7 linked regions of the Homo sapiens genome follow. The protein of the gene in region 1 purifies or fractionates together with the protein of each later gene. This does not show direct contact. Each region holds a gene or a part of one and is shown in the gene's direction. Other genes may lie near its edges. The genes, in order: CDAN1, UBN2, HAT1, CDIN1, UBN1, UXS1 and CABIN1.

Region 1 (4,077 bases):
GTCTCAGTCATAGGTGCTCTTGTCCCTGCAGGGTTCTTTCCAACCTGGACAAAGGGACCTTGAAGCTGCTGGCTGAGAATGAGCGGCTGCTGTGCTTCTCACCAGCTCTGCAAGGCCGCCTTCGAGCTGCCTATGAGGGCAGTGTTGCCAAGGTAGTAACCCCAGCTTAGTTGCCCACTAGCCTGGACCTAACCCTTCCTAGCTTTCATAAATTCAGGCAACCCTGCTGACGACACTTCAGTGTAATGTGAGCTAACTCTGGGCAAGAATAAGAGGGAGAAGTTTTCTCAGCATGACCCTGCAGTTCCTAACGTTCCTGCTGTATTTTAGGTCTCTCTGGTGATGCCTCCCTCTACTCAAGCTGTCTCCTTTCAGCCAGAGACTGACAATCGTGCCAACTTCTCCAGTGACCGAGCCTTTCATACTTTTAAGAAACAGAGGTGATAAGAAAAGGGACTTTTTGGGGAGGGAATGAGATGACATTTTTCTGGAATAGGCAGCTGTTTGGTTTCATAGAAATTAGGAGTTTGGCACCAACAGGTGGTGGGTTAGTCCCCCCAGGTCCTTCCTGCCGGCCATCATAGGGACCACCTGGCTTCATTCTCATGTGCATCTGTGAACCCCGGCGCTTAGCAAGCCATCTCACAGGTGTATGGTTTTAGTCTCAGGGTTCTCAAGCAAGAGTGTGCCAGGATGAACTGTCACTGCCCACAGAAGTACATGAAGCCTGTAATGTGCTGCTGGTCTGTAGCACTACTGTCATCATATAGAGAACTCTGGAGAAATTTAAAAATGGGGCTGCTGGCCGGGTGTGGTGGCTCACGCCTGTAATCCTAGCACTTCAGGAGGCCGAGGGGCGGATCACCTGAGGTCAGGAGTTTGAGACCAGCCGGGCCAACATGGTGAAACTCCGTCTCTACTAAAAATACAAAAATTAGCCAGGCGTGGTGGTGGGCACTTGTAATCCCAGCTACTCTGGAGGCTGAGGCAGGAGAATCGCTTGAACCCAGGCGGGGCGGAGGTTGCAGTGAGCTGAGATCGCGTCATTGCAATCCAGCCTGAGTGACAAGAGCAAGACTCCATCTCCAAAAAAAAAAAAGGTGGTGGGTGGGCTACGGATAGTTCTTCCAGGGGCAGGAAGGCACTGGTGGGAGTGAGTGCCTCGGCTGATCAGGCGTTCTTATGCGTCAGGGATGTGTTTTATGAGGTGCTGCGAGAGTGGGAAGATCACCATGAGGAGCCTGGCTGGGATTTTGAGAAGGGCTTGGGCAGCAGAATCAGGTGGGTGCTCAGACCTTGTCTTTCTTGTTCCTGGCAATGAGTAGCTCAGTGCTTGCTCGGTGGCAGGAGGGAGGAGGAGGGAAGGTTTTCCCCGCTCCTACCAGCCATTAGCTGTTTTCTACTATCCTCCGAAATCTCTTTAGTTATTGATAACTCTGCCTCTATTCGAAAGGGATGTGTCTCTCCAGCTCCTTCCACTCACAGGTGTCTTATCCTTGTTCTGTAGTGGCAATTGCTTAGAAAGTCCAAAGCTCTTAACTCAGGTTGCTTGAGGTTTTTTTGGCCCAAGTCACTGCTTAGACACATCCAGCCTCCATCTTCTCCATCCTCTAATTTGGGCAAGTCTGGTCACTGTGCAGGTAGATGCCTGGGCTCAGAACGCGAACCTCAGTCCAGTCATCTCCCTTCACATTGCTCATGAAACCCGCCGCCTGTTAGTGTGGCTGAAGACGGTCGGGGGGTGTGGTCGCATGATTTCTTGTTTGGTTAAGTGCACCTCTAGCCTCGGAGGACCTTGGTGCTGAGGGAGTGTCCCTTGCCTTCAGTGTCCCTTTGCAGGCTGGCTCTGGCTGAGGTCTGCTCAAGTCCCTGGTAAACGGCTGGGAAGTCCAGGGGTTGGCTGCTTCTCTCAGATCTTTCTCCCTCTCCCTCCTTTCCACACCCTTCATTCCTGCCTTCTATTCCTCAGGGCCATGATGGGTCAGCTCTCCGCAGCCTGCAGCCACAGCCACTTTGTTCGGCTTTTCCAAAAACAACTACTCCAGGTAACAGCCCCAGCAAGAGATTAATCCACATTAAACAGCAGGCATCACAGGCAGCCACTTAACGGCTGCACTTTGGGATAGGGCAGACAGCCTGGCAGGTCCTGGGCTGGAATTTGAACAAGAGTTCTACTCCTCGCGGAGTGGCTGAAACTCCAGTGGCCACAGAAAAGCCAGGGCACTCTCTTTGACACATCCCGGGCCCTGCAGCTCCTCTAGCCTGCTGCTGCCTTCCCTGATTTGTGCTGTGGTAAAGAGCCCAGGCTTAGTAAGTAGTCAAGCTTTGTTTCAGATCCTAGCTCTAGTGACCCTAGGCACATGCTTAACCTTGGAATTTAAGTTTCTTCACCTGTGAAACAATACTGTAATTCACATCTCAGAAAATCTATCTAAAGCACTTGACACAGTTGGCATTCCTTAAATGTTCATTACTTTCTCCTTATTTTTTGTTCAGTCCTTCCCTCCCACTTGCTGATTTTTTTAATTTCTCTCCTTCCTCTTCCACCCTAGATGTGTCAGAGCCCTGGTGGTGCTGGGGGCACCGTCTTGGGCGAGGCCCCAGATGTGTTGAGTATGCTGGGAGCTGACAAGCTGGGGCGGTTGTGGCGCCTACAGGAACGGCTTATGGCTCCTCAGAGCAGTGGGGGGCCCTGCCCACCCCCCACCTTCCCAGGCTGTCAAGGCTTCTTTAGGGACTTCATCCTTAGTGCCAGCAGGTAGGCTCCCCTGTGTCTTGCAAGGAATGGGGCAGAGGCCAGGAAAGGTTTGGCTTCCCAAAAGGGTAAATAGTTCTCCAGTCTCCTTTGCCTGGAGATAGGCTCCTTCCAGCTCCAACTTGCTGGCTTCATTGCACTTCTCATTCTGTCACCCACGTGGGTGATTTCATTGCTCCTGGGCCTCCCTGTCTGTCCTGCTGCTCCCTTCCCTCTGGAGTGCCCCTTCTCGATTCTGGCTTTTCCTGTACCTCTTCCAGTGCTTATGCCCCACCCACCCCTTCTTCTCAGCTTCCAGTTTAACCAGCATCTCATGGACAGTCTGAGCTTGAAGATCCAGGAGCTCAATGGTCTTGCCCTGCCCCAGCATGAGCCCAATGATGAAGACGGGGAGTCAGACGTAGACTGGCAGGTCCGAAAACAGAACAAGGGAAATAATGGGGTCTGACCCAGGAGGGAAGGGAGTATGTTCAAGAAAAACTTTATAACAGATCGGGAATTGTTCTGGAAGCCTCATGCTTGGACCTTTTACTTCCCTTGATTCCATGCAGGGTGAGCGGAAGCAATTTGCTGTGGTGCTTCTTAGCCTGAGACTTTTGGCTAAATTCCTGGGCTTTGTGGCTTTCCTGCCATACCGGGGGCCTGAACCTCCCCCGACCGGTGAGCTTCAGGACTCCATTCTGGCCCTCAGGAGCCAGGTGAATGGGCGGGGGATTCTGGTGAGGAGGGAGCAGGGAGGACCGGCCAGGCACTGAAGCTGACTGGTTTCCTTGGCTATTCTGGAAACCAGGCAGGTTAAAGGGCATCTCCCAGCCCTTCCTAGGGACCTGCCCCCTGACTGAGCTCTGGCCCTCCCAGGTCCCTCCGGTCCTGGATGTGCGGACTCTGCTGCAGCGAGGGCTGCAGGCCCGCCGGGCGGTGCTCACCGTGCCCTGGCTGGTGGAGTTTCTCTCCTTTGCTGACCATGTTGTTCCCTTGCTGGAATATTACCGGGACATCTTCACTCTCCTGCTGCGCCTGCACCGGTGAGTGGAACAAGGCTGAGGCTTGATGAAAGGATTCGGGACTCGGGACATTGGTCAAGCCTGCTATTAATAAAGAGGGTCGAGCAGTCTGCACTGTGCGTGTGGGGCCCTGGCCATAACTGAGCCCTGGGAGAGGCACGATTGGCTCCCCTGAGGTACAGTGGGAAATCATCTGCACTTTCATTGGCCTCATGCTGTTCCTGAGGTGGCCCCGCTGAGAGACAGTCCCCATGCAGGAGGCGGGGCTGGGGGGATCCTGCTTGCCAACATGGCCCCAGTCCCTTTTAGTTCTGCTTT
Region 2 (4,077 bases), on another chromosome or scaffold:
TTGGAAACAGGGTCTCGCTCTGGTGCCCAGGTTGGAGTGCCGTGGTGCAGTGTTGGCTCACTGCAACCTCCGCCTCCCAGGTTCAAGCCTTTCTCATGCCTCAGCCTCCCAAGTAGCTGTGACTACAGGGGCAACACCACACCCAGCTAATTTTTTGTATTTTTGGTAGAGACGGGGTTTCACCATGTTGGCCAGGCTGGTCGTGAACTCCTGACCTCAAGTGATCCATCCTGCCAAGTAGCCATCATTTATTATAGTCTTTCTAGAGTCTGGGCGGTTTGCTTTACATATATTATCTCCAATCTTTGTAACAAAACCACAAGCTAAGTAATATTGACCATATTTTACAGATGAGGAAACTGAGGCTCTGAGTTCAAGATTAAGTAGCTGATACAGTGTCACACAGTGGCAAGAGTAGGCTACAGGTCCAGGTCTGTGTAGCTCTAACTCTGTTCCCTTTCCGCCACCATCGAGAATGCTATTTTAATTCCTTTGGTATAGTAGTTCTGAAACCTTCCTGCCTCCTAAGAGTTTGAGAGTGAATGTGTGTACTTCTAAGCTCATTGCGTCAGACTCAGAACCAGCATGAGACTTCTTTGAAAGTGTCCGGTTTATGCTAAATATTCATGTACATTTTATATTCAGTGCCACAATATAGTGGTGTTTGTTTGAATACAAAAACAATTTTTAATTACCTGATTAAGTTGCTTAACATTTTTCTCAAATTTTCTAGTATTACTAAATTTGTAGAAAGCCCCACTCCTCACCCCACATTTACACTATGGCTTTGAGTACTCTTGGCACTTTACTAAAACATAACCCAGTTGAGAAGCAACACCTTACCCCTCTGATTCCTCTGTGAGCATTGAAAAGTATCCCACAGGAGAAAGGATATCAGCTCACATTGGCCTTGTCATTGAGGGCCTTGTACCCTCAAGATACAACAGGGATCTTGACCCATATGTGCTGGCTCCTTGTGGTAATTAAGAAACCATTTGAAGGTAGAAGAAGTAGATGAGAATAGATTGGAATTGGAATCAGGTCCTAGGCCATACTTTGCCATCTGCTAATTGTGTCCTTTTGGTGAGGTTTTTTAGCTTTGGGCCACAGTTTTCTTTTTCTCTCTTTTTTTCTAAGACAGAGTCTCTGTCACTCAGGCTGGAGTGCAGTGGTGTGATCTTGGCTCACTGTAACCTCCACCTCCTGGGTTCAAGCAATTCTTCTGCCTCAGCCACCTGAGTAGCTGGGATTACAGGCATGCACCACCATGCCTGGCTAATTTTTGTATTTTTAGTAGAGATGGTTTCACCATGTTGGCCCGGCTGGTCTCGAACTCCTGACCTCAACTGATCTGTCCACCTTGGCCTCCCAAAGAGCTGGGATTACAGGCGTGAGCCATTGGGCCTGGCCAAGGGTACAGTTTTCCTATCTATAAATTGAGAGGTTCAGATTTTTCCGAGACCCTATTGTTCTCTATTCTGTGACTATATAATAATAAATTTAGGGATAGACTGGTGGGTGTTTAAATAGAAGGAATAGCATTGTAGTATTTAATTACAGTGTAATCTTTTGAGACTATATTGTATCATGATGTATAAATTGTAAAATCCTATAGGATGTATAAATCCTAAAATCCTAGCATGTATAAATCCTAAAATACTGTGTTTTTTATACAAGTTATACATTGGTTACACTTAATGTTTTAACCAACTAGTACACTTATGTGGCTCAAAATTCAAAAATTAAAAATCTTCCTTTTATTGTATTGCCCACCCATGGAATCCCACTTCCTAGGCAAGTAACACTCCTGTGGTACTAGAGATACATCTCTATACATACACATCTATTCCTTTCCCACCCCCTTTTTATACATATTATAGAATTGTACACACTTAAGCTCTTTGCTTTTTATTTACTGTATCTTAGTATATTTGGGGGGGTCATATCAGGACAAAGTGCTTTCTCTCCCTTTTTTTTAAGGCTGCATGCTGTTTCATTGCATGGAACTATCACACTGTAACCAGTCCCCAAATGATTTAGGTTGCTTTCAAAAATTTGCCCTTATTAATAGTGCTGCAGTAAATTAGTCTGTAAAATGGCATTTTACACAATTTCAAGTTTATCTCTAGGAGAGATTCCTAGAATCAGACGATTCAGGTCGGAAGATTTATGCATTTATAATTTTAGTATATATTACTAAATTACCAGTTCTACTCCCTCCATCACTATATTAGAGTGTCTTTTTTTTTTTTTTTTTTTTTTTGAGGCAGAGTTTCACTCTTGTTGCCCAGGCTGGAGTGCAATGGCGCTATCTCGGCTCACTGCAACCTCCACTTCCCAGGTTCCAGCAGTTCTCCTGCCTCAACCTCCCAAGTAGCTGGGACTGCAGGCATGCACCACCATGCCCAGCTAATTTTTTGTATTTAGTAGAGATAGGGTTTCACCATGTTGGTCAGGCTGGTCTCGAACTCCTGATCTTAGGTAATCCACCGCCTTGGCCTCCCAAAATGTTGGGATTACAGGCGTGAGCCACTGCGCCCAGCCTAGAGTGTCTATTTTGCTGTGGGTTACAAAATCAAGGATTTTAGAATTGCCCTTTGCAAATGGAAAAATTCCTATATATAATCCTATAAGTAAAGTGATTCAGTATATGACGCACTACCTTAAAGTTAGCATTAAGTCTTCTTAGTCAACCCTAGGATAGTATCTGGCATAGAAAGATCAGCGTTCTGAAGAAGTTGTTTGATGCGTGAAATTGAGTTTCAATTGACTTAGATATATTTAAGCCTTGTTATTTTGTTTACAGTGATAAAATATTACTCTTGTTATAGTCTAAATTAATGGGCTATATTTCTTCTCTGGATTTTTATTTTGCTGACTTACTGTCTTATTTCCATTCTAATTAGAGATTGTATGTATATTAACCAAAAAGCATGCCCAAGTGTTATATCTATGAGTATTGTGTGTGTGTGTATATGTATATATATATTTATTTGGTAGAGACAGGGTCTTGTTGTGTTGCCTAGGCTGGTCTTAAACTCATGAGCCTAAGCAATCCACCTGCCTCAGCCTCCCAAAGTGCTGAGTTTACAGATATGAGCCACTGTACCCAGCCTAAATATATATATATATATATATATATATTTTTTTTTTTAAATAATTATTTGGAATCTTTTAAGAAAATCATCAGGCCAAAAGTGACCTGAGAGAAGATACATTGTCCTGCTGGGCGTTATATGCCTAGAGCTCTAGGCTATCACAAAATCTCTCTCTTAAACTACAATGATCTTTATTGGTGTTTGGGGCAGGTGTTGCAGCAGTTGAAGATCAGTGATATCAGAAATTACAGGGAGTATAAAATTGTAAAAAGAGCACCCTGCATTGAATTTATGGGGTTCCCCCCTCCATTGTGTCCTATTTTTATGGCCATGTTCTGTTTCCTGTTATGTTGTTCTTATGCTCAGGTAATGTGACAGTTCATATTCAGCATCAATTACTAAATGGTTTTTTGGGAAAAGGTCAATATGACTATTAAGTACCTATTTTTACCTAGATTATACTAAATTGGTTGTTGTACATAAATCTTTTTAAATAGCTAAGTCCAAGTTTTGACATTTCTACAACCGTATAGGCTCCAGATTCGTCTTGATGGTTAGAAAGGAGGCAGGATACAGGTAAAAGAGGCTCCCATGCCTCTCTTTATTCCCAGTTAAGGCTCCAAAATGTTTAGGCAAAACATCTTGGTTTCCAATTCAGTTTTTAGATAGTCTGTAGGTAATATATGCCTTTTATGAGGCCACCTATACTCTATACTCAGGAGTAGGATGCTTCAATTTGATGGGTATAGACTTGTTATCTTAGCCTTCTAGGACATAGGATAACCTATAATTGTTGGAAGATTTCTCTTAGTGATTTTTTTCTCACTCCATTACCCCAGCCGTTCTGAAAGATCATACTGTCCTAGAATTGGATATAAATTCACTAATCTAAATGAAAGCACCTAACACAATACCTTGTGCCTAGCAGGGGCTCAGTTAAGACTCTTTGAATCTGAATGACTCTCTGAATAGGAAGACA
Region 3 (4,077 bases), on another chromosome or scaffold:
TTTTAAACTGATAGATTATAAATCCCTTTTTAAAAGTAGTTTTTCTTGGCTTTTTAAAAACCTTAACTAACATACTATACTGTTTTACTCATCACTACTTTGGATTTTAATTGCTACACAACACATCTATTACAGCTATCCCTCATTATGACAGTTTCCTTGATAGCTGTTGAAATTGTACTGATACTATAAAATATGCTTACGATGGCCTCTTCATGTTAGCAATTTCAAGGAAAAATATTTATCAAATAGTACTTTAAAAATAAGCAAAAACTGTCCTATGAAATGCAGTTTATTTGATCTAGAGTGTGAATGAGTTGCAAGGACTGATGTACATATTAGAAATAAACTGTTGGGCAAAATGCTGAAGAGCTATATTTTCAATAATAGGTCTTTTTTATACCTATAAACAAATTATATATAAATGTTGGTGGTACCAGAGCATTGAAAATAAAACTTGTTTGTGATAAACGTCATCACTGGTTCTCTATCCTGAAATGTAACTGAATCATAATAAAGTGCTATTCATCTGCAGGTGCATTGCTTCTACTTAGTTAAAAGATGGTTGAAAGGATAGGAATTAGTAGCATGTTGTATTAGCCTTTTGTAGTGTATTTTGTCCTAAGCATCTTAATTTCCCTGTTTTGAATGCTAAGTAGCAAGGGTCTTGGTTTAGAACTAATACCCATCATGCATGTAAACGGTATGAAAGAGCTGCTTAGTAAGTTAACACAAAGTGTTCTTGTGTCAGTCCTTGTGGAAATAGATACAATACAAACATTACAGCTGAACTCACGGCAAACTCCATTAAGTAAAAACCTGGCCTCATTGTTCAGGAAAAAGTTTGAATAGAATACAAGCTCATTTTGTTGAATGTAATGTCAGGCTTTTAGGGACTGTATTGAGGGATAAGGTTTTGTTAAGTTGAGACCAATTCATTAAGTTTTATTGCCTGGTGAGAAGCAGCAATACTTTATTGTAAGACTTCATCAAATATTCATGGTTAAAGAGAAGTAGTAAATGTATTCAATCAAGTGGTCTTTTGGGATTTTGAAAAGGATTATGAAGTCTGCTCAGCTGATAACATTGATAGAGGTTGTTTAACAAGGGTAATTTTAATCTCCGAGTTTAGTTTTGTTGTCCAGTCTTGTCTCTTTTTTACTGTCACAAATCCAGGTCTGTAAGAATTGTGTCACATTCTAAGGATAAAAGAATGATATATCCATTCATATAATTTATGTTATTTCCTAAATATGTATATTTTTAAGTTATCATCTTAGTTTGAGTTTGGCATATGAGGGAATTGTGACCCATCTAGTTGTGAGATTGCTATTCATTTGGTCAGACTCTAGTCTCATCTCACCACTGCTGGTGATCTTTTCATGTCTTGGATAATATGATTTCTTTGACACATATAAAATAATAAGCAACCTTTTGCCTTGGCCAGTTCAGACTGTCATGAAGGGGTATAGTCAGCTGTTTCTGCATAATGGAAATGTCCATAGCATTGCCCTTATTATTGTACTTGGTATCAGGTCACCTGCCTTCTCTTATTTACTTTTATATTATGCTCATCTCAGTTTTGTGTGATGCAGTTTGTGCACAGGAAGCTCATCCTTTTCCAATTCGCTGTGTGTTTACTTCTTTAGTTTTCAACCAAAGTTTTGTAATTTGTGTTGGTTTTGTCAGTTTTAAAGAAATAAACCATATTCAACTTAAAGTCGAATTTGTTATTAATTTTTTATATCCTTTATTCTTTAGGCAGATGATGTTGAGGGCAAAATTAGACAAATCATTCCACCTGGATTTTGCACAAACACGAATGATTTCCTTTCTTTACTGGAAAAGGAAGTTGATTTCAAGCCATTCGGAACCTTACTTCATACCTACTCAGTTCTCAGTCCAACAGGAGGAGAAAACTTTACCTTTCAGATATATAAGGTAAAGATAAATCTAAATATTTATTGAGTAAAGTTCTATTTGCCTGAAACCTGTATGTAGTTTTGTTGTCAGTGATTTATTCTAACTGCAGTAAACAAGTTTTAATCAGCATTATAAACCAAGATCTATTTTGTGTGTATGTCTGTATCTATGTTCACATCTTAATCTGAGACTTCTAAACATTTTCCCACAGGATAATTTTGTGTTCTGCGGACTTTCACTTACCTTTGTGATGAGTTTCACCTGACTTTTCCTGGCTTTTTCCCTAGGCTGACATGACATGTAGAGGCTTTCGAGAATATCATGAAAGGCTTCAGACCTTTTTGATGTGGTTTATTGAAACTGCTAGCTTTATTGACGTGGATGATGAAAGATGGCACTACTTTCTAGTGTAAGTACAGTTCTAAAGCAACAGTAGACCTTATTACCTCCACAAAGCCAGCATTTTAATTGTGGCAGCCCAATTATTGGGACAGTATAATGATATTTTTCCCAGGAAAGAAAAACTATTGTTTATGAGGCTTGAGTTTTCCTTCATTATGCTTTGGGAGACCTTGAGAATAGAGCTGAATTAAATGCTGTTGTCCGTTAGGGCCCTGAATGTAGGCTTAAACAGTAAAATGAGCTTTGCCTGTGTTTTCTTTTACTTGCCACCTATTCATCTTTATAATAGGCAAGTGCACTGAAGTGATGTAAAGAGGTCTGATTTATCCAAGTTGCTGCACACCAATTAAGTGAATTGTACATTCAGAACATAGCAGGTGTACCCATTGGGCCCTCACAGAGTAGCTTGCTGACACTGAAAATTCAGTCAGAGAATGGAAAAGAAAATGGACACTGCATGGGAGCGCGACTGTAATTGACCTGCTTGGCTTTCTGTTTTATCTGCAGATTTGAGAAGTATAATAAGGATGGAGCTACGCTCTTTGCGACCGTAGGCTACATGACAGTCTATAATTACTATGTGTACCCAGACAAAACCCGGCCACGTGTAAGGTAATTGGCAGTATAACACGTGCCTTGTCTTTTATTTCAGAAGAAGGAACTGCTGAAGTTTCCAATACTTGTTATAATAGTGTTGATTTGTTTAAAAAAAAAATCACTATTATTCATGGGCTATGTACTGATTTATTTCATTGTTCCCTTTGAAACAGTGTAGAAGATTAAACTAATTTTGAGTATCTTGATAATTTTTGGGTATCTCAAAGGTGGATTGAAAAAAAGATCACACAAACTTTAAAGTGTTTGTAATACTATAGTGATCTGCAGGTTTTAAACTGGTCATGTTATGATATTTTAATTTTAAAATAATTTCTTTACTGTAGTCAGATGCTGATTTTGACTCCATTTCAAGGTCAAGGCCATGGTGCTCAACTTCTTGAAACAGTTCATAGATACTACACTGAATTTCCTACAGTTCTTGATATTACAGGTATGTAAAATTTGATTTGTTACTGAAAGAGCCTTTCTAAAAATGTCTTCTTACTGATTGATTTTATTTTTGTCAGAAATAACTATTTTAAACAGCAACATTTTCCTAGGGTGTTTAAGCCATCTAAAGATGGCTTAAGTTTATGTTTTAGAGCATAAGCCTTTGTGGGGATTGGATTACATCCCTAACTGTGAAGTGCATAATGGAACAAATTGAAGATAATGAGCTGAATATATATGGGGAAGTCTTGGTCAGGCGTAAATACGTTGAAAGTATGGTATAACTTATTTGTTCACTTTATTTGGCAAACAGTTGCATTATTTAGAGGCAGCCTGCACTTTAATTTACATGTAGGGGCAGAATATTATAAACTTTACTGAGAAAAAAAGTCAAGGTAAATACTTCTTGAATAGAATACACATTTCCTAAAGTGTGTGTTTTGTATTCCTAAAATGCATGCCTTCACAACAGTAGTAGATAAGGTGAAATGTAGGCCTATTTGTTTTGGAAATGTCTTTCAGTATGGATTAGCCATAGAAGTAGTAGTATGAATAGAATGCTTAGGAGAAGGAAAGACGACTTACTCGACTTACTCGACTTGACTCTTCAAAAGGAGAAGGCATTATTAGATGGAGTTTCAGATAATATGTTAAAGTGTGATCCACCAAAAAACAAAGTGGCCCAAGGAATATTTATGTTATTTT
Region 4 (4,077 bases), 6.1 Mb from region 1:
TATTCATTTGAATTTTTAATGGATAGTTCTATATCCATTAAATATTTAGCTGACCTCAGTTTCAGTCTTCTAGTAATATGGAAAAATTTAACCTACCAACACATTTTCTCCTACATCAATAAACCTTTTATTTACCATGAATATATAGCAGTATTTAGCCAAGAGAAAACGTAGTTGTTTAAAGACTTTTCCTCCGTTTTGGCTACAGACTAGTACAGAAAGAATAGCACTTTTCTATGAAATTGATAATGCATTAGGGAAATTTAGGAATGGCTGGTACCATATTATAGCTTCTAAACAACCAAGGTGCCATTTTTTCCAGATAGGTAATACTTAGATAACATACACTTGCATCTGGTGACAATTGATGTGATGGTAATACTTTATGAGCTGATATTTATTTAATCAGGGGAAACTATAAAAATTGATGAGAAATATATAGCATTGGTACATTACAGGGTGCAGCAACTCTCTTAGACAAGAGCATTGTATTTTTATTATCTTTTTGGGGGGCTAAGGGCTGTATGTGGTCATCATTGATTTTATAAATGTCTTCATACTACTTTTCCAGTTTCAAGTCTAAAATTGAACATTTTAGCAATTCACACTTCGTTAGTGATAATAAGATCAGTCATTCTGTTCTCTCCACACAAATATTTTCAAGTGAGATTTGAAGCACTATGCATTTTATTTACATGCTAAATTCTGACATGAAGCATGATGGCCCTATTTCAGAGAAAGATGGACACATGATTAATATGAAAATTAGGGAGATGCAAGTACCTGAACTAATAAGGTAGTCCTTATTCAGGCTGGACTACCTTCAGTAATTTCACCATTTTTCATGTGTCAGCTCTGATGTGGGTTACTAGGAATAAGCAGCTTCGTGGAAAGCATTTCTTTCTACTTGGGGAATTTAAGGGCATCCAAGTACATACGTATTTGAAAAAACTGTTCATACAAATGAAGCCAGCCTTTTTGTCTAGTTACTAAATCAAGATAAAATTTTGGTATGAATACGGGACTTGAAAACCTGTCAGGAAAAATTCATGGTGATAATATATGAGGAATGTTTGCTGTCTTCCACCTAAGATAAAAAGACTCGTTTTAGGGAAGCATTATTGTTCTTAAAAATGTGTGTTCCTATTTTTTGGTGAAATTAAGTAAATGGTTAATAAAAGATTTAAGAACCCCAAAGAAGACAATATCTTTACAAAATAGTAGATACATTTTTTATTAATTAAAATGACTGTCGGACTGAATATCCTTTGTTTTCTGACTGGTTCTTTATTTTAAAAAGTTACCACCCTGGGATCTGTATTAATTAAATTGGTAAGTAGTGTTTCAGATAAGGACGGTGATCTTATGTTGCAGATATTATATTGTTGTAATTTATTATTAACATCTCTGCAATGTAGTTGTCTTTTATCAAATAAAATATTTTAAATGTAAGGAATTTATACCAAAATTTCAGTTGTCTTTAAAGATAAAATCAGTAAAATCCTTATTTGGATTTGTCATATAAGGACATTTGACTCTGTTTTTGAAAACTGTCACTAAATAACAAAAAGGGCTTATTATTTGAAATTGCATTCAGAACAGTATAAATATAGACAGTTGCATAGAAAGAAGCATGGCTTGAATAAAAAATTATATTGGCCTACCAACAGAAAAAATTGAGGAGAGATGAAAAAAGCCTATTTCACTGTTTTAGACGAATGCTTTTTCTAAGTTGTTCCATCCTTTTTGCTCCAATGTTATATTCAATAAATTTGACCCATTTATTCTTTTCAACAGCCCAAACCATACTTGTTATAATTTTATTATAATGGAAGCCACCAAGGGTGGGAAAGATTTTAATGAATGATGCTTGCTATGGTTGATTAAAATTGACTTATTCTTCAGTGTTGACAAAATACTGGAGTATCCACTGCTCGCACAACTTGATAGTTTTAATTTTCTACTTCTGTTTTATAAAGGTGGACTATGCGCCCTCATTAATGGCTCGGCTTATACTGGAGAGGTTTCTACAGGAACACGAGGAAACTCCACGTGAGTTACCCTTTTTTCCTAATGGTACTCTTTTACTCCCTTCCCCAATTTAAAAATAATTTACACAGCATTTCAAGTCACTTAATGAGAGCCAGATTCCAAAACAGCTATCATGAACAGTTAATGACAATTAAATGCAATATAAAAGACCACCCACAACTTAAATACTCTTCAGAATAATGCTCTCTTCTTTGTCTAAATTCCACACTCAACCTCTCCATTGAGCTAAATAGACAATGTGTATCAAACTAAAAAATTGATTCATCTTCGTATATAGAATAAGATACATCATTTGAAAAACCATTGTCAGGAACTGGCTCTAAAAGAAACATTCATCCTTTTTATTTTAATTCAGCAAGACCGGAGAAATACTACTTCCAAATGCAAAGGTGAATTCCACTGGTCTTCCTACAAGAAAATAAAAAAGAAAAAAAGAAAAGAATAGAGCTACAGAAGGAGGTTCAAGCCTAAATTAATTTGCCACTGAAAAAATACATTTTGTTATTTTCTCTGTGTCAACTGCATGATTAAAACCGGCTGTTAAGTGAGCTCTGGGGATGTGCTCGTAAAAGATTTATGAGTAATATTCAATGTGATATTCAAAGTGAGTCATGAATATCAGGATAATTGCTCTCAGTGCTGGCTCTTTTACTAGGCAGGAGTTTGTCAACTGCCCCATAAATATTTGCCTAGTCTCATGTAAAAAAGACAATTTCATCTTCTGCATTTTTATTACCTAGTATAATGTTTACCTTTGGAGCTCAGCTGTGGTAGAATAGGTAAAAAGCTTTGGAATATGCTTTATGCACATAATCTTCCCTCTTTGAAAGTAGAAGATAATACCTGCTAAAACATCATTCAGTAGTACATGTTGGATTTTTATTTTTTTATATTTTGTCAGGGATTTTTTCCCTTTGATTTTCTTTGAATCTGCAGTTACCAGTGACTGGTGGCCCAGTTACCTTGTGAAGGTTTCATTTGAATGAATTAAGTACTTCCCCTAAAAATTCAATATCATTTCAATAGATGTAGCCTCCAAAGTAACCTGCAGTGATGCTTCATGAGCAAATCACATGATGTCAGAATGGTATGGTTTCGATTTAATCAAGAAAGAGATTAAAGTGGATGTGTGTTATTTTCAACTTCGCAGCAGCACCGCCATTTGTCAAAGTCAACCTTCTGATTGCTTTGGACCTACTGCTATCCAGGTCTTGTCAAAATAGTAGTCAGCATAGTCTGAAGCAGGTAGACTGGCCTATATAGAGCAGTATCAAACACAGTAAAACAGAATTCATTGACTTGTGAATTATGAAGTTAATAGGTTGATCATAAATTTTGTAGCCATTAATTTATCTTTATAACACTGGCACATCTTCAGTACATTTTTCTTTTTATTTTGTACCATTTTATACAGCAGAGTTAAATAGTACTGAATATAATTTTGATGTGTACTGTATATCAGAATCCTATAATTCCAATGCTAGGATTAAATGTCTTGCATGAATACACTGGAGAAGGACATGAGCATATTTAGAAACATACCAAGGAAAGGGTATTTCAAGAATGTGGCTGCTTGGAAAGGAGGCGAATGTAAATATTGTATGCTTGAATTACACTATGATTATGTATAATCAAATAACAGTATTTTGAAGCTTTTTCTTTTATAATTGGTTGGGTTAATGGTTGTTTCACTGTGAGTTGTTACAGAGTCAGGTTTTGTTTTTTTTTTTTTTTCCTGAGTAAAATCATGACAGATATTTGATGTTATTTTTAATCATCATACTAGGCTATTGTGAAGGCACCATTTTAACTCCCTATTTGCCAGTAGGCTGACTGCCAGTCAAAAATGCTGTATTAAAATATTTCTCTGGACAGAAAATGGTTTCAAAAATCTTTTATGATTATATGACAAACCATAATTGAGGGTTTATCATTTCAAAAAGTGACAGAAAATGTTAAAATTAATGCCAGGTTATAGAAGTCAATTAATTTGCTGATGGTGCTAGGTTATCTTCCTTTCTTTTC
Region 5 (4,077 bases), on another chromosome or scaffold:
TTGGCCAGGCTGGTCTCAAACTCCTGGCCTCAAGTGATCTGCCTGCCTTGGCTTCCCAAAGTGCTGGGATTACAAACATGAGCCACTGCACCTAGCCACAACTTGATGGATTTTCATGAACTCAGTACCCCCATGTAACCTGCACGTAGGTCACAAAATATATTTATCAGGACCCCAGAAACCCTCCTTCTGCCCTGCCAGAAGACTACCTCAATACTTATGGGCAACCACTGCCCTGATTTCTAACAGCTTAGATCTGCTTAGATTTGTGGGGTTTTTTTGTTTTTGAGGCAGAGTCTTACTCTGTCGCCCAGGCTGGAGTGCAGTGGCACCATCTTGTCTCAGTGCAACCTCTGCCTCCCGGGTTCACGCCATTCTCCTGCCTCAGCCTCCCGAGTAGCTGGGAGTGCAGGCGTCCGCCACCACGCCCGGCAAATTTTTTGTATTTTTAGTAGAGACAGCGTTTCAATGTGTTAGTCAGGGTGGTCTCGATCTCCTGACCTTGTGATCCACCCACCTTGGCCTCTCAAAGTGCTGGGATTACAGGCATGAGCCACAGCACCTGGCCTCTCTTTTTTGTTGTTGTTGTTGTTTTTTGAGACCAAGTCTCACTCTGTCACCCAGGCTGGAGTGCGGTGATGCAATCTTGGCTCACTGCAACTTCCGCCTCCCAGGTTCAAATGTTTCTCCTGCCTCAGCCTCCCGAGTAGCTAGGATTACGGGTGCCAGCCACCACGCCTGGCTAATTTTTTTTTTTTTTTTTTGTATTTTTAGTAGAGATGGGGTTTTACCATTTTAACCATGTAGGCCATGCTGGTCTCCAACTCCTGACCTCAAGTGATCCACCCACCTCCGCCTCCCAAAGTGTTAGGATTATAGGCGTGAGTCACCGCACCTGGCCGTGTTTTTGTATTTTATGTAGATGGAATTGTATGGTATTTGAGTACCGCCTAGGTGAAAAGCTGTTTTTTTTTTTGAGACAGAGTCTCGCTCTGTCGCCCAGGCTGGCATGCAGTGGTGCAATCTTGGCTCACTGCAAGCTCCGCCTCCTCGGTTCATGCCGTTTTCCTGTCTCAGCCTCTCGAGTAGCTGGGACTACAGGCGCCCGCCACCACGTCTGGTTAATTTTTTGTATTTTTAGTAGAGACAGGGTTCCACCGTGTTAGCCAGGATGGTCTCGATCTCCTGACCTCGTGATCCGCCCGTCTCTGCCTCCCAAAGTGCTGGGATTACAGGCGTGAGCCACCGTGCCTGGCCCGTGAAAAGCATTTTTAAGCACCTGTGTCTGCCTTTGCACTGTGCTAGGCTCTGAGGAAAAGGTAAGTGGGCCCCACACTCGCAGCATTGTGGTCTCTAGCATGTCTCTTAGTGAAATGGGGATGAGGCTGGTAATTGGTTCACAGTTGTCTGAGTGTGGAACGAGAATGAAATCATGTTGTGAATTTTCTAGCAGTATGCCTCAGTGCCAAGTGATCAGTCGGTCTTATTCACAGGTGTGCTGTTCGGAGGGTATTTTTGGTTAGAAGGATTAATCTTTTTTTCCTGAGATTAAAAAAATGTGTTTTCTTGGCCTGGCATAGTGGCTCACACCTGTAATCCCAGCACTTTGGGAGTCTGAGACATGAGGATCACTTGACCACAGGAGTTCAAGACTAGCCTGGGCAACATAGTGAAACTCCATCTGTGCAAAATAATACAGAAATTAGCTGGGCATGATGGTGCATGCCTGAAGTTCCAGCTACTCAGAAAGCTGAGGTGGGAGGATTGCTTGAGCCTGGGAGGTCAAGGTTGCAGTGAGCCGTGATCACACCACCGCACTGGGTGAAAGCAAGACCCTGTGTCAAAAAAAAAAAAAAAAAAAAAAGGCTGGAAGGCCTGGCGCAGTGACTCATGCCTGTAATCCCCACACTTTGGGTGGCCGAGGCAGGCGGATCACTTGATGTCAGGAGTTTGATACCAGCCTGATCAACATGGCAAAAACCCATCTCTACTAAAAATACAAAAATTAGCCGGGTGTGGTAGTGCATGCATGTAATCCCAGCTACTCGGTAGGCTGAGGCAGGATAATTGCTTGAACCCAGGAGGCAGAGATTGCAGTGAGCTGAGATCATGCCACTGTACTCCAGCCTGGGTGATGGCGACTCCATCTCCCCCTACCAAAAAACACCAAACCAAAAAAGAAAAAGTGTTTCCTTGATTGAGATCTGATTGCCTGATTGCCAGAATGGAGGCCTGTGAGTCTGTACCAAGGGTCAGCCTGTTGCATGAGCACCACTGGGCAGAATGACAGAAAGTAATTTCAAATCCCTTTATAATTCCTGTTTCAGGAAAATGGTATCTTCTTCCTTTAGAGGAAGAGACAGGAGCAGGAGTTGGTTAATGTGTTTATTCATGGGTTCAAACCAAATCAGCAGGTCAACTGAAATTAGAACTCCAGTGCTCTGATGTCACCTTTTTGGGGACTACAGATGCCCTTCACCATTGCAGAAAAATGCATGGAGGATACACAGAGAATTTTGATCCAATTCAGAGGATTCAGTCCTGGACTTCGGGTTCAGAACTCCTAAATCGTCGTGGGTCTACTCTGCAGTGTTAAAAATACAATAAAATCAGGCACATTTGTGCAGCAGTTCTTTTAGTGTATAGTCCTTAATAGTATGAAGGCATTGTGCTAGACTCAGAGGACTATAGAAAGTTAGAGAAAACACTGTACCAGCCTCAAAACAAACATCCTATAGATGTTTTGAGAGAATGGTACCACCGCAGGTAACAGAAATTACAATATGGTCATTGTTTAAGTCTGGTACGACACAGGCCCTGGAGGTCTTAGAAAGAAGAGAGCTTATTTCCTGATTAGTGTTGGGACAGAGCTGGACCTTCCGTCATACAGTCAGGAAATGGTAGTTATTGGAAGACTGCTGTTGGCAAGGCGTTCAGTAGTATACATAGAATCCAGTGCTGCTCAAGGTTGGTGGGATTTCTTACAGTTACATAACCACTCAAGTTATATGCGATCATTGTAGAAAAATTAGAAGATCCAGATAAGCATGTTTGAAAGACTCCCCATTTGAGGTATGATCGTTAGATGTATGCTCTATAATATCCCATTGTATGTGTACACCACAAATCATTTAACTGATCCTTTGCAGGTGGTATTTCAGTAGGCAGAGATGGGAGGGTGAGATAAGAAAGTTTGTTTGAAACAGGCATACAGTCTTTAGTGTTTTCTGTCTACCTTGAAGTCTTAAACATACTTCGTACAGGAGTCTTATTAAAATTAGGATTCCTGGCTCCTGGCTGGGTGTGGTGGCTCTCGCCTGTAATCCCAGCACTTTGGGAGGCTGAGATGGGCAGATCATTTGAGCCCAGGAGCTTGAGACCAGCCTGGGCAACATGATGAAACCCTATCTATACAAAAAACTTAAAAAAAAAAAATTTAGCTAGGCATAGTGTTGTATGCCTATAGTCCCAGCTATTCAGGAGGCTGAGGCAGGAGGATCACCCGAGCCTGGGGAGGTTGAGGCTACAGTGAGTCATGATTGTGCCACTGCACTGCAGCCTGAGTGACAGAGTGAGACTCTTATCTCAAAAAAAAAAAAAAAAAATTTTTTTTTTTGGATTCCTTGCTCACAAAGCTTAAGGCTTATCTGTGGAAAATTTGCTTGATGAGAAAAGAATAAGCTTATAAAATGGAAATAAGCCTTGGAAGCCTGAGTTTAACTTTGGTAGCACCGAGAGAAGTGCAAATTCAGACCTTTCTAAACAGTATGGCAGAACGGCTCTCAAGAACTTGCACCACATTCAGTGGGATTTTCACGTTTTTGAGCCCTTGACTATTTTGGAAGTCAATGGACTCTTTCTTAGAATGTTTTTAAATGCCTGAAGAAAATTTTAAGAGTTACAAAGGAAGTCCACTTTATTGAACGTGGTTGTGTAGCGACTGGGCATCTCCTTCTAAAGGCCCTTTGCTGTCTTTGAGTCCTGCAGCCCCTCATGCTGTGGTGGATGATTGTAGGCATTCAATCAAGTTTTATTAACCTACATTAAGGGAAATTTTACTTTCTTAATTAAGATAAA
Region 6 (4,077 bases), on another chromosome or scaffold:
AGACTGGGTAATTTATAACAAATTTATTGGCTCATGGTTCTGGAGGCTGGGGAGTCCAAGATCAAGGGGTTGTGACCTGGTGAGGGTCTTCTTGCTATGTCATCACGTAGTGGATGGGTAAAGAGAGAGCAAGAGAGAGACCAAAGGGACTGAACTCGTGCTTCTATGTGGAACACACTTCCACGATAACACACTCACTCCTCTGATAATGGCATTAATCCATTTACTTCACCTCATGGCCTAATCACCCCACCTTTTAACACTGTTGCACTGGGGATTAAATTACCAAAATGTGCTTTTGGTGGACACGTTAAAAGCACAGCAGCACTGTTACAGGAATGCTGCAAAATCTTGCCATGAATTTTATTATGTGCACATGGAATGATCTTCCTGTCGATGCTGAGTATTATAGAATTTATTTTGCTTTACACATCACCACAGCAAACAGACTTAGTTTTTTTTTTCCCCTCATCTGCCATCTCATAGGTTAAGCACATTTCTGAGGCATTTGGCATGTGAGTCTGGTATATTGTTGCTATAACTTAAAGCCTTTTCAGTAAATTGGTAAGCCTTAGGACAGCTTCAACAGAAAGAGGAGACTTGCTTTGAAATACATTTTTTGATTTTTTGCTAATTTGCTAAGCATCATGAGTTTGACTGCTGACCTTGAACTAGACCACTTTAGCTGCCTATTGGCACCCACAAGAGCGAGCAAGAAAGCACACTGAGACAAACCCCTATACTGGAAAGCCATGCAAAGCCGTGTAAGTTCTAATCCATCTCAGTGTAAGAGGTCTTACTTCTTTTCTCCTGTTCTCTTTTGGGTATTAGCTCCTTGTTATTCAAAGAATATCCTTGGGTTTGGTGATTAGTGTTCCTGATAGAGCTTTGTAAGTGCTAAGCTTTCACCAAATTTGTTTCTATTTGAAACACTTGCCTAATGGGCTAACATTGATTAGGATAAAAAATTGCATAACCATCCAGCTATATTATATAAATCTTAAGTATTTTAGGTAGAAGGAAATTACTTCAGAAAAAAAAATTCCAGTGCATTTTAGTCAAGCTAAGGTGCTTCCAACAATTTTACGTCAGTACTAAGACTAGTGAGATGTTGGAGATGATCATGTGTAATTTAATACGCTGCATCTCTGATATCTCAGAACTGTCTGCCAGGTATTTTGGGTGCAGAGATAATGTTAGAGTGCCACTGAACATTTTGTTTTCAGAAATATTTGCATATAGAGAAACAGTTATGTTAAAAGGGGTTACATTTCTTTTTAAAAGTTGCAAGTTTTTAAATGTAAAAATCATGGAAAACTTGGAAAAAATGCAATAACGTGAAGATAAAATGAAATCTCATCCCGTGAGTTAAGCTCTAGTGGTGAGTCAACTTTGAATTTCAATTATTTTTCTGGAAAATCGTTTTTCATAGTCATTGTTCAGGTATAGCAGTAGAATGTGGGAGCTCTTAAGATGAAACACGAACCAGACAAATTGACAGGCAGTAGAGAGCGTGTAATTAGAAAGACTGTAGCTTTAGTGTGTCCCAGCTAGTGATCTCTGAGGATTTTAGTCAAAGACGTAACTTCTCTGGGTGTCAGTTTCTTATCTTGAAGGCAAAGGGGATTTGGAAAATGGTGCTGTTGGTAAAGCCAAATGAAAGCTATCGAGCATGAGGATGCCTGGTCTCACCCATCCTGTCTTAACCATTTGATTTGCATTTCATCAGAGCATATGTAATATCTATGTGGTGGTTAAGGGATGGTTATTCTTGAGGTTGGCCTTGTTAACTGAAAAACCAAACTCTAAAATATTTTAGAGGTGTATTATGATCCAGTATGAGTAACTGCAGCCCCAGGAAACACAAAACCAAGAAGCCTTGAGTAAGTGTGCCCGAGGCAGGCGGATTAGTTTAGTTTTATACATTTTAGAGAGGCAGAAGTTACAAGGAGGTATAAATCAATATATAGGGCTTTTACATTGGTTTGGCCCAAAAAGACAGGCTATTTTGAAGTGGGGGCTCACAGGTATAGGCGGGTTAAGAGATTCTGTATTTTATTTTATTTATTTTGAGACAGGGTCTCTCTCTGTCACACAGGCTGGAGTGCAGTGGCACAATTGCCACTCACTGCAGCCTTGACCTCCCTGGCTTTAGAGATTTTTTACTTTGTAATTGGTTAAAGGAGTAAATCTTTGTGTAAAACTTTGGAGTCAGCAGAAAGGAATCTAAGTTATGACAAGGAAGTCTGTTCACCAATACACTGGGTCAGAATGACTTGGAGGGATGTGACTTAGCTCCTGTCTGGCACGACCCTAGGTCCTGTTTATGATCTCTGTTTTAATATTAACGTTGGTCAGTTGTGTCTAAATTCCAAAAGAGAAAGTATAGTGAGGCATGTCCAATCTCCTTTCACATCACTGCTGGGAACTCAGCTTTTCAGGTTTCTCTGGGGTTCCGTTTGGCCAAGAGGGGGCCCACTCAGTTGGGGGACTTAGGATATTTATTTATTTATGAGACAGAGTCTCGCTCTGTCACCCAGGCTGGAGTGCAGTGGTGTGATCTCAACTCACTGTAACCTCCACCTCCTAGGTTCAAGTGATTCTTGTGCTTCAGCCACCATAGTAGCTGGGATTACAGGCGTGTAGCTAATTTTTGTATTTTTAGTAGAGACGGGGTTTCACCATGCTGCGCAGGCTAGTCTTGAACGCCTGGCGTCAAATGATCCAGCCACCTTGGCTTCCCAAAGTGTTGGGTACAGGCATGAGCCACTGCACCCAACCCAAATTTCATTTTTAGTTTATAGCCTCCCCTTACTTCTCCTCTGCCATTTTTGATCTTTTTCATCCAGATGGCTTCTTTTTTTTTTTTTTTTTTTTTTTTGAGATGGAGTCTTCTCTGTCACCCAGGCTGGAGTGCAGTGGTACGATCCACTGCAACTTCCGCCTCCTGGGTTCAAGTGAGTCTTCTGCCTTAGCCTCCCAACTAGCTGGGATTACAGGAGTGTGCCACCACGCCCAGCTAATTTTTTGTATTTTTAGTAGAGACAGGGTTTCACCATGTTGGCCCGACTGGTCTTGAACTCCTGATCTCAAGTGATCCACCTGTCTCGGCCTCCCAAAGTGCTGGGATTACAGGCATGAGCTACCACTCCACTCAAATCCAGGTGGCTTTACTCTCTCACCGTGGTGAATACTTCATCGTGTGTGAGATTTCATTTATTTTAAACAGGAGTTTCATGGAGAATTACATGTTTTAAAACCATAGACCTAGGAGTTTGTATACCTTTTATTTTAGGTAGAAAGGATTGCTGTCTTCCTATTAATACTTTCCGTTTGAAACAGAAGGGTGAAATGAATGAGAATTTTGGTGAAGAGAAGGCAGAGTGGAGAACAGGATACAGCAGGCTAGAGAATTGAGTTGTGCATGGCACGTCTGTTTTCTGAGCCTATTCTTTTCACTCCCACCGCCTATAACCTTCCCCCAGATGAAATTCCCTTTATCCTCCTCCAGTTACACCATTTAATTTGAATAAAATACCTGTGTTCAACTTAAAAGTATTTTTCAAGCGCAGTTGACTTTTCACCTTTGCAGGGGTCTAGGTTTTGTTATTACTGAGTTACCGTCAAGACCCCTCACAGCTGCCTCATCGTGCTCTGTGGCTGGGAGTGTATACCACACTGGGTTCACATCACCATTCAGAAATTAACCACACAGTGGACTTAGGCGTTTAGGGCTTTAGTCTACAAACAGCATGTATTGCTTATTAATTTGTTCTCATAAACAATTTAAAAGATATTTGTTTTTCCTGCAGTTTTTGAATCTAACTTAAATATTAAGTTTTTTTTTCTTGGTAGTTCACCAAATCTCTGCATTTTGCTAATCGTTTTTTCTATAAAGTAATTTTTAAAGTTCTCAGCAGTAATATTAAAGCCACGTGAGCTATGTCCAGCATCCCATTTGTTATAAAACAAGAACCTTTGACTAATGGGAAATTCTCAGTCAGCAAAGACATTTTGAAATTTGTAACTATGATTTTTCTGTATTCTTCCAAGACTGGTAGTTTGAAATTTTAGGCT
Region 7 (4,077 bases), on another chromosome or scaffold:
ATCATAGCAGTCATGCCCTCCCTCTGTGGACCCCTAGGCTCACTCTACCATGGGACTCAGTGTTTGAGGCTCTGTTTCCTCAAGAGCAGAGGGAAGACCACCAAAGTCTTAAGGCTGTAGGCAGGGTTTGGTAACTTGTATCAGGCACTCAGCTTAGAGTCTGGGGCTTCATAAATTATTCAGATTGTTAAAATCTCTCTCTGTGACCTCATCTGCCAGTGAGGAGCCTAGAGCCGTTCTGAAGGGTTGGGGGATTGACTGAGATGCCTGGAAAGAGATGCTTGGCATGGAGGGGAAGCCTCAAGCACAATCTCAGTGTCTTTAAGTCCTCTGAGGCTATTGGTGTGCACCCCCAGCTGCCCTCAACTCTATAAGCAAGCATTATCCCAGCCACTGTGGCCATCAGGGAACCCAGCCCTGGTGACACCAGGGCCCAGGAATCAAGTGGGGCAAATCTGAAGACAGCAAGTGTGCCTGTGGAACTGGGAGAGGCGAGGCAAGGGGTACGGCCAGAGCAGCGGGACCCAGGGCTGAGGGAGAACTAGGAGAGGGCCAGAGGAGACCCTCCTCGCGGCGACCCTGCTTCTCTCAGCTGCTACTTATGGCCCCTGCCCATCTATGATCCTGCCTCTGCCTTTCCCTCAGATGCCGTGGGGGTGTTGGCCTGGTGCTGGCTCCCTCCACCTGCCCTCAGCCAGGCCTCTTGGTCACTGCTGCCTATGCCCTTCTTTTCTGGCCCTGACTTAGCTTTATCCAAGCTCACCCCTGGCACATTCTCCACACCCTCCCTGAGGCCCGAACGTGAGTCCCTGGGCTGAATGCAGTGGGGCTTCTGCTGTGGCAGTTGGAACCTGGCCATGCCCCTTCCTCCTGTGTGGGCCGTGGTGAGGAAAACCAGGTGAAGCAGGGGCTGTCCCTTGTACCTGTCCCACTCCAGGAGACCCTCCTCAGCACCTTGGTTCTCTAGGAGCTTCATAGCCCTCCACAGGCCCGGTGTTAGAGGGACAGTGGAGGGAGAGGGCTGCTGTGGCTACTGCCCCTCTGTGGGGAACCGCTGTGTCCAGGTCATCCTGGGGCTGCCAGTATCATCCTTCTCATGGGTCTCTTGCTGCAAACACAGAAGCCCAGCTCCACCTGGTGTAGGCAGAAAGCCAGTTGGCTTGCTACCACCCTGCTGGCTCGTGACTCTGCCTGGTGGCTTCACTCTTCAGACCAGCTTTCTCTGGAGGCCAGCCTCATGGCCATAGGAAGTCCCCTCACCGTTCGGGAGGTATGTCCATCTGCACACCGCCCCAGGCCACAGAGAAGAGGGGTTATTCCTAAAGGCTCTCATTAGGAGGGGAAGCCTGACTGGGATCCTGGGGCCCATCTGCTGGCTGAATTCCCATGGCTGGTGGTGGGTCTTAGGCCTGGCCGAGCAGGCAAGGGGGCCAATCCTGGGGGCAGGGAAAGGACAAGCCCACAACAGAAGGGGCTTCTGGGAATAGTGCCCAGTGCAAGGTAAATAAACATAGGAGCCCCCATACTGGGGCATGTGAATGAAGATACAGTAAAGAGATGAACAAGGGCACACTAGCTGGCCTGACCCTGCCCGGGAAACGTGCCCTTCAGCACACTGTTACCAGAAAAAGGCCAAGCAAGATGCCAGAATGAAACCAGAGCACATGCAAATGTAAAATGCTGCCTTTCAAGCCTCTCAGGGCTGGCTGGGGAAGTTTTGAGAGTCACAATAGCATGGGGGTGGCCAAGCGGGCGGCGGTGTCTATGGTTCCCTTCTGATTTTCCATGGACTCACTGCCTGATTTGTTTGGTCTTCCATCCTTTCTGAAATCAGCAGTGTTATGTTACAAAAGGAAACGGAAAGGAGATAGGGATCCAAACTGTGCTGGTGTGTGTGATGCAAACTAGACCCGTCCTCACGGGTGTGTCTGTTGGTGTCTATGTGCCCTGGGAGGTGCAGGGATGGGAGGGTCTTCAGCGGGACGTACTGCTGCAGCACAGCGGATGGAGACCCAGGAGACAGTGTCTGCCCATTCTGGTGCCTACTGTAGATAGACCCTGTCTGTTGGAAAGCAGGTGTCTTTTCATAAGCTGCTTCAGGATCCACATCTGCATGGTAGGAAGATGCAGCATTGATGTTTGCTGCCCTGGATGTGGATAGCCTCAGTACCCTGGTTTTGTCCTTTTCAGGCACTGCCAGGAAGTAGAAGGTGGCTGCTGGCCTCCACATAGTCCCCCAGCCTGCAGGTGGACCCTCCATGTCACAACAGGAGCCAGTGTAGAGGCCACAGGGTCTCAAGGCTGCGAGTTTTAAACTCCTCTCAGGCCTTAACAGCTCAGGGCTGGAGGTGCCCTGGCTTTCCTCCCAGGGCTGCTAGAGCAGGGTGGGCCCACACCTGTGTACAGATACTGTGGATAATCAGCAAGGACCCACAGGGACAGGGCCCTGAGAGGGGTACCACCTAGACATCCTGCAGTGGTCCCTGTAGCTGGGGGCCCAAGTCCCCAGAATCCTATACTGCAGCATGATGTGGGCCAGGCCCCATGCCAAGGAGAAAGCAATGTCACTCATAACCTTGGTCCATTCTGGGCAGCAGTTTCTTCAGCGTGTTGGCTGCAGGGACCCATCTAGGAGCCAGTTCACTTATTCCAGGCCCCTGAGGTCCCACCCCAGAGATGGGCCTCCTTAATGCCTGTTTCCTCATCACTCACTCCCTGCTTTCCCCACACCCTGCCTGGACCCCGAGTAGGTGTCAGATGCCATGCTGGTCACTAGGACACTGCAGGGAACCAGGCCCTGGAGCTAGTGATAGGTAGGGGGTGCCCAGTGCTGCAGCAGGTAAAGCAAGGACCAAGGGAGATAATGGGGGGTGCTCCCCAAAGTCAACTTTGCCCTGGTTAAGCCTTCAAAGAGGAGTGGGGTAGGATGGCAAGAAGTGGGAAGAGGGAGGGGGACCCCAGGCATCCCAGGAGCTGCAGATGATTCTCTGGGCACTGCTGGAGAGAGTGGGTGAGGGCAGAGCCTAGCCAGAGCTTCCCTGCAGCCTGCTTTGACTCAGCAGTTCCACCTCTAACAAATGGTCTGGTGGCTGGGTAAGCACCTGTGCAGGGAGGTGTACACACTGGGCCTCTCACTGTCTGTCCTCACGTTTGATCAGGCCCCACCTGAGTGCATCCCATAGGGGACAGGTCCAGCAAACATATGAGATGCAGCCATACAAAAGAGGAGGCTGCAGAGCAGTGGGTCTGTCTGTCATTTGCTGCCACTCATGAGAAGGAAGGGGGTGGGGATACACTTCTGTCTCCTTGGGACAGTGAGAGGGGTCCAAGAAGCCCCTGGCTGGGCAGTGTCCCCTTTGGCACTGTGGCAGTTTCCAGGGGATACCAGACAGGGTGTCCCCGAGGCTCCTGCCACAACCACCCCCCTCACACACCTGTGCCATCCATCCCACAGGGCATCTGGCGGATCCCCGTGGACGAGATTGACCGGCCGGGCAGCTTTGCCTGGCACATGAACCGCTCCATCGTGCTGCTGCTCAAGGTGCTGGCCCAGCTGCGGGACCACAGCACCCTGCTGAAGGTGTCCTCCATGCTTCAGCGGACCCCAGACCAGGGCAAGTGAGTGCAGCCACCCTGGACACAGCCTGGCATGCTGTGTGGGTCAGGGGCACACACACCCCAGGAAGCCTCTCCACTGCTCTGGCCCAGCTGTGAGGACCACTGGCTGGGAGCCTGGACCAGCTCTTCATTCTCCTTGGGGGCCTCTCTGTCCCAGTGTCTAGAACCTAAACAACACTTCCCACCCCCAGGCACCCTAGGGCAGACACAGCCTGTCCCCACTGATCCTGGTTCCACGTTGAGACTCTGGACTACCCAGCCTTTCCTTTCCTCCTGCTTCCCCCAACTCAGGGCTCTCGGGGTGCTGTCAGGTTGTAGGGAAAACAGATGTTCAGAAGATAGCTGTGGTTCCCCAGACAAAGGCCAGTAACAGTGGGGTGAGCGACAGGGGTGCCTGGGCCTCAGTGGTAAACAGGGAGCTCTCCGCCAGAAAGGGCAGGACAGATAACAGAGCCATCT

The links.
Region 2: the proteins of CDAN1 (region 1) and UBN2 purify together in Homo sapiens (affinity purification with mass spectrometry, with the first as the bait; one large-scale study listed by BioGRID). This does not show direct contact.
Region 3: the proteins of CDAN1 (region 1) and HAT1 purify together in Homo sapiens (affinity purification with mass spectrometry, with the first as the bait; one large-scale study listed by BioGRID). This does not show direct contact.
Region 4: the proteins of CDAN1 (region 1) and CDIN1 purify together in Homo sapiens (affinity purification with mass spectrometry, with the first as the bait; one large-scale study listed by BioGRID). This does not show direct contact.
Region 5: the proteins of CDAN1 (region 1) and UBN1 purify together in Homo sapiens (affinity purification with mass spectrometry, with the first as the bait; one large-scale study listed by BioGRID). This does not show direct contact.
Region 6: the proteins of CDAN1 (region 1) and UXS1 purify together in Homo sapiens (co-immunoprecipitation; one large-scale study listed by IntAct). This does not show direct contact.
Region 7: the proteins of CDAN1 (region 1) and CABIN1 purify together in Homo sapiens (affinity purification with mass spectrometry, with the first as the bait; one large-scale study listed by BioGRID). This does not show direct contact.

The regions. Positions count from the first base shown.
Region 1 is NC_000015.10:42,730,301-42,734,377, reverse strand, and holds part of CDAN1 (codanin-1), read left to right. Parts: intron 1-31; coding exon 32-152; intron 153-330; coding exon 331-440; intron 441-1,191; coding exon 1,192-1,281; intron 1,282-1,969; coding exon 1,970-2,045; intron 2,046-2,552; coding exon 2,553-2,758; intron 2,759-3,046; coding exon 3,047-3,167; intron 3,168-3,306; coding exon 3,307-3,453; intron 3,454-3,613; coding exon 3,614-3,780; intron 3,781-4,077. UniProt on the Homo sapiens protein: May act as a negative regulator of ASF1 in chromatin assembly.
Region 2 is NC_000007.14:139,237,312-139,241,388, forward strand, and holds part of UBN2 (ubinuclein-2), read left to right. Parts: intron 1-4,077.
Region 3 is NC_000002.12:171,963,577-171,967,653, forward strand, and holds part of HAT1 (histone acetyltransferase type B catalytic subunit), read left to right. Parts: intron 1-1,761; coding exon 1,762-1,941; intron 1,942-2,210; coding exon 2,211-2,332; intron 2,333-2,832; coding exon 2,833-2,937; intron 2,938-3,266; coding exon 3,267-3,373; intron 3,374-4,077. UniProt on the Homo sapiens protein: Histone acetyltransferase that plays a role in different biological processes including cell cycle progression, glucose metabolism, histone production or DNA damage repair. Coordinates histone production and acetylation via H4 promoter binding.
Region 4 is NC_000015.10:36,655,854-36,659,930, forward strand, and holds part of CDIN1 (CDAN1-interacting nuclease 1), read left to right. Parts: intron 1-1,979; coding exon 1,980-2,052; intron 2,053-2,407; exon of another isoform or gene 2,408-2,441; intron 2,442-4,077. UniProt on the Homo sapiens protein: Plays a role in erythroid cell differentiation.
Region 5 is NC_000016.10:4,853,765-4,857,841, forward strand, and holds part of UBN1 (ubinuclein-1), read left to right. Parts: intron 1-4,077. UniProt on the Homo sapiens protein: Acts as a novel regulator of senescence. Involved in the formation of senescence-associated heterochromatin foci (SAHF), which represses expression of proliferation-promoting genes. Binds to proliferation-promoting genes.
Region 6 is NC_000002.12:106,145,577-106,149,653, reverse strand, and holds part of UXS1 (UDP-glucuronic acid decarboxylase 1), read left to right. Parts: intron 1-4,077. UniProt on the Homo sapiens protein: Catalyzes the NAD-dependent decarboxylation of UDP-glucuronic acid to UDP-xylose. Necessary for the biosynthesis of the core tetrasaccharide in glycosaminoglycan biosynthesis.
Region 7 is NC_000022.11:24,160,946-24,165,022, forward strand, and holds part of CABIN1 (calcineurin-binding protein cabin-1), read left to right. Parts: intron 1-3,454; coding exon 3,455-3,618; intron 3,619-4,077. UniProt on the Homo sapiens protein: May be required for replication-independent chromatin assembly. May serve as a negative regulator of T-cell receptor (TCR) signaling via inhibition of calcineurin. Inhibition of activated calcineurin is dependent on both PKC and calcium signals.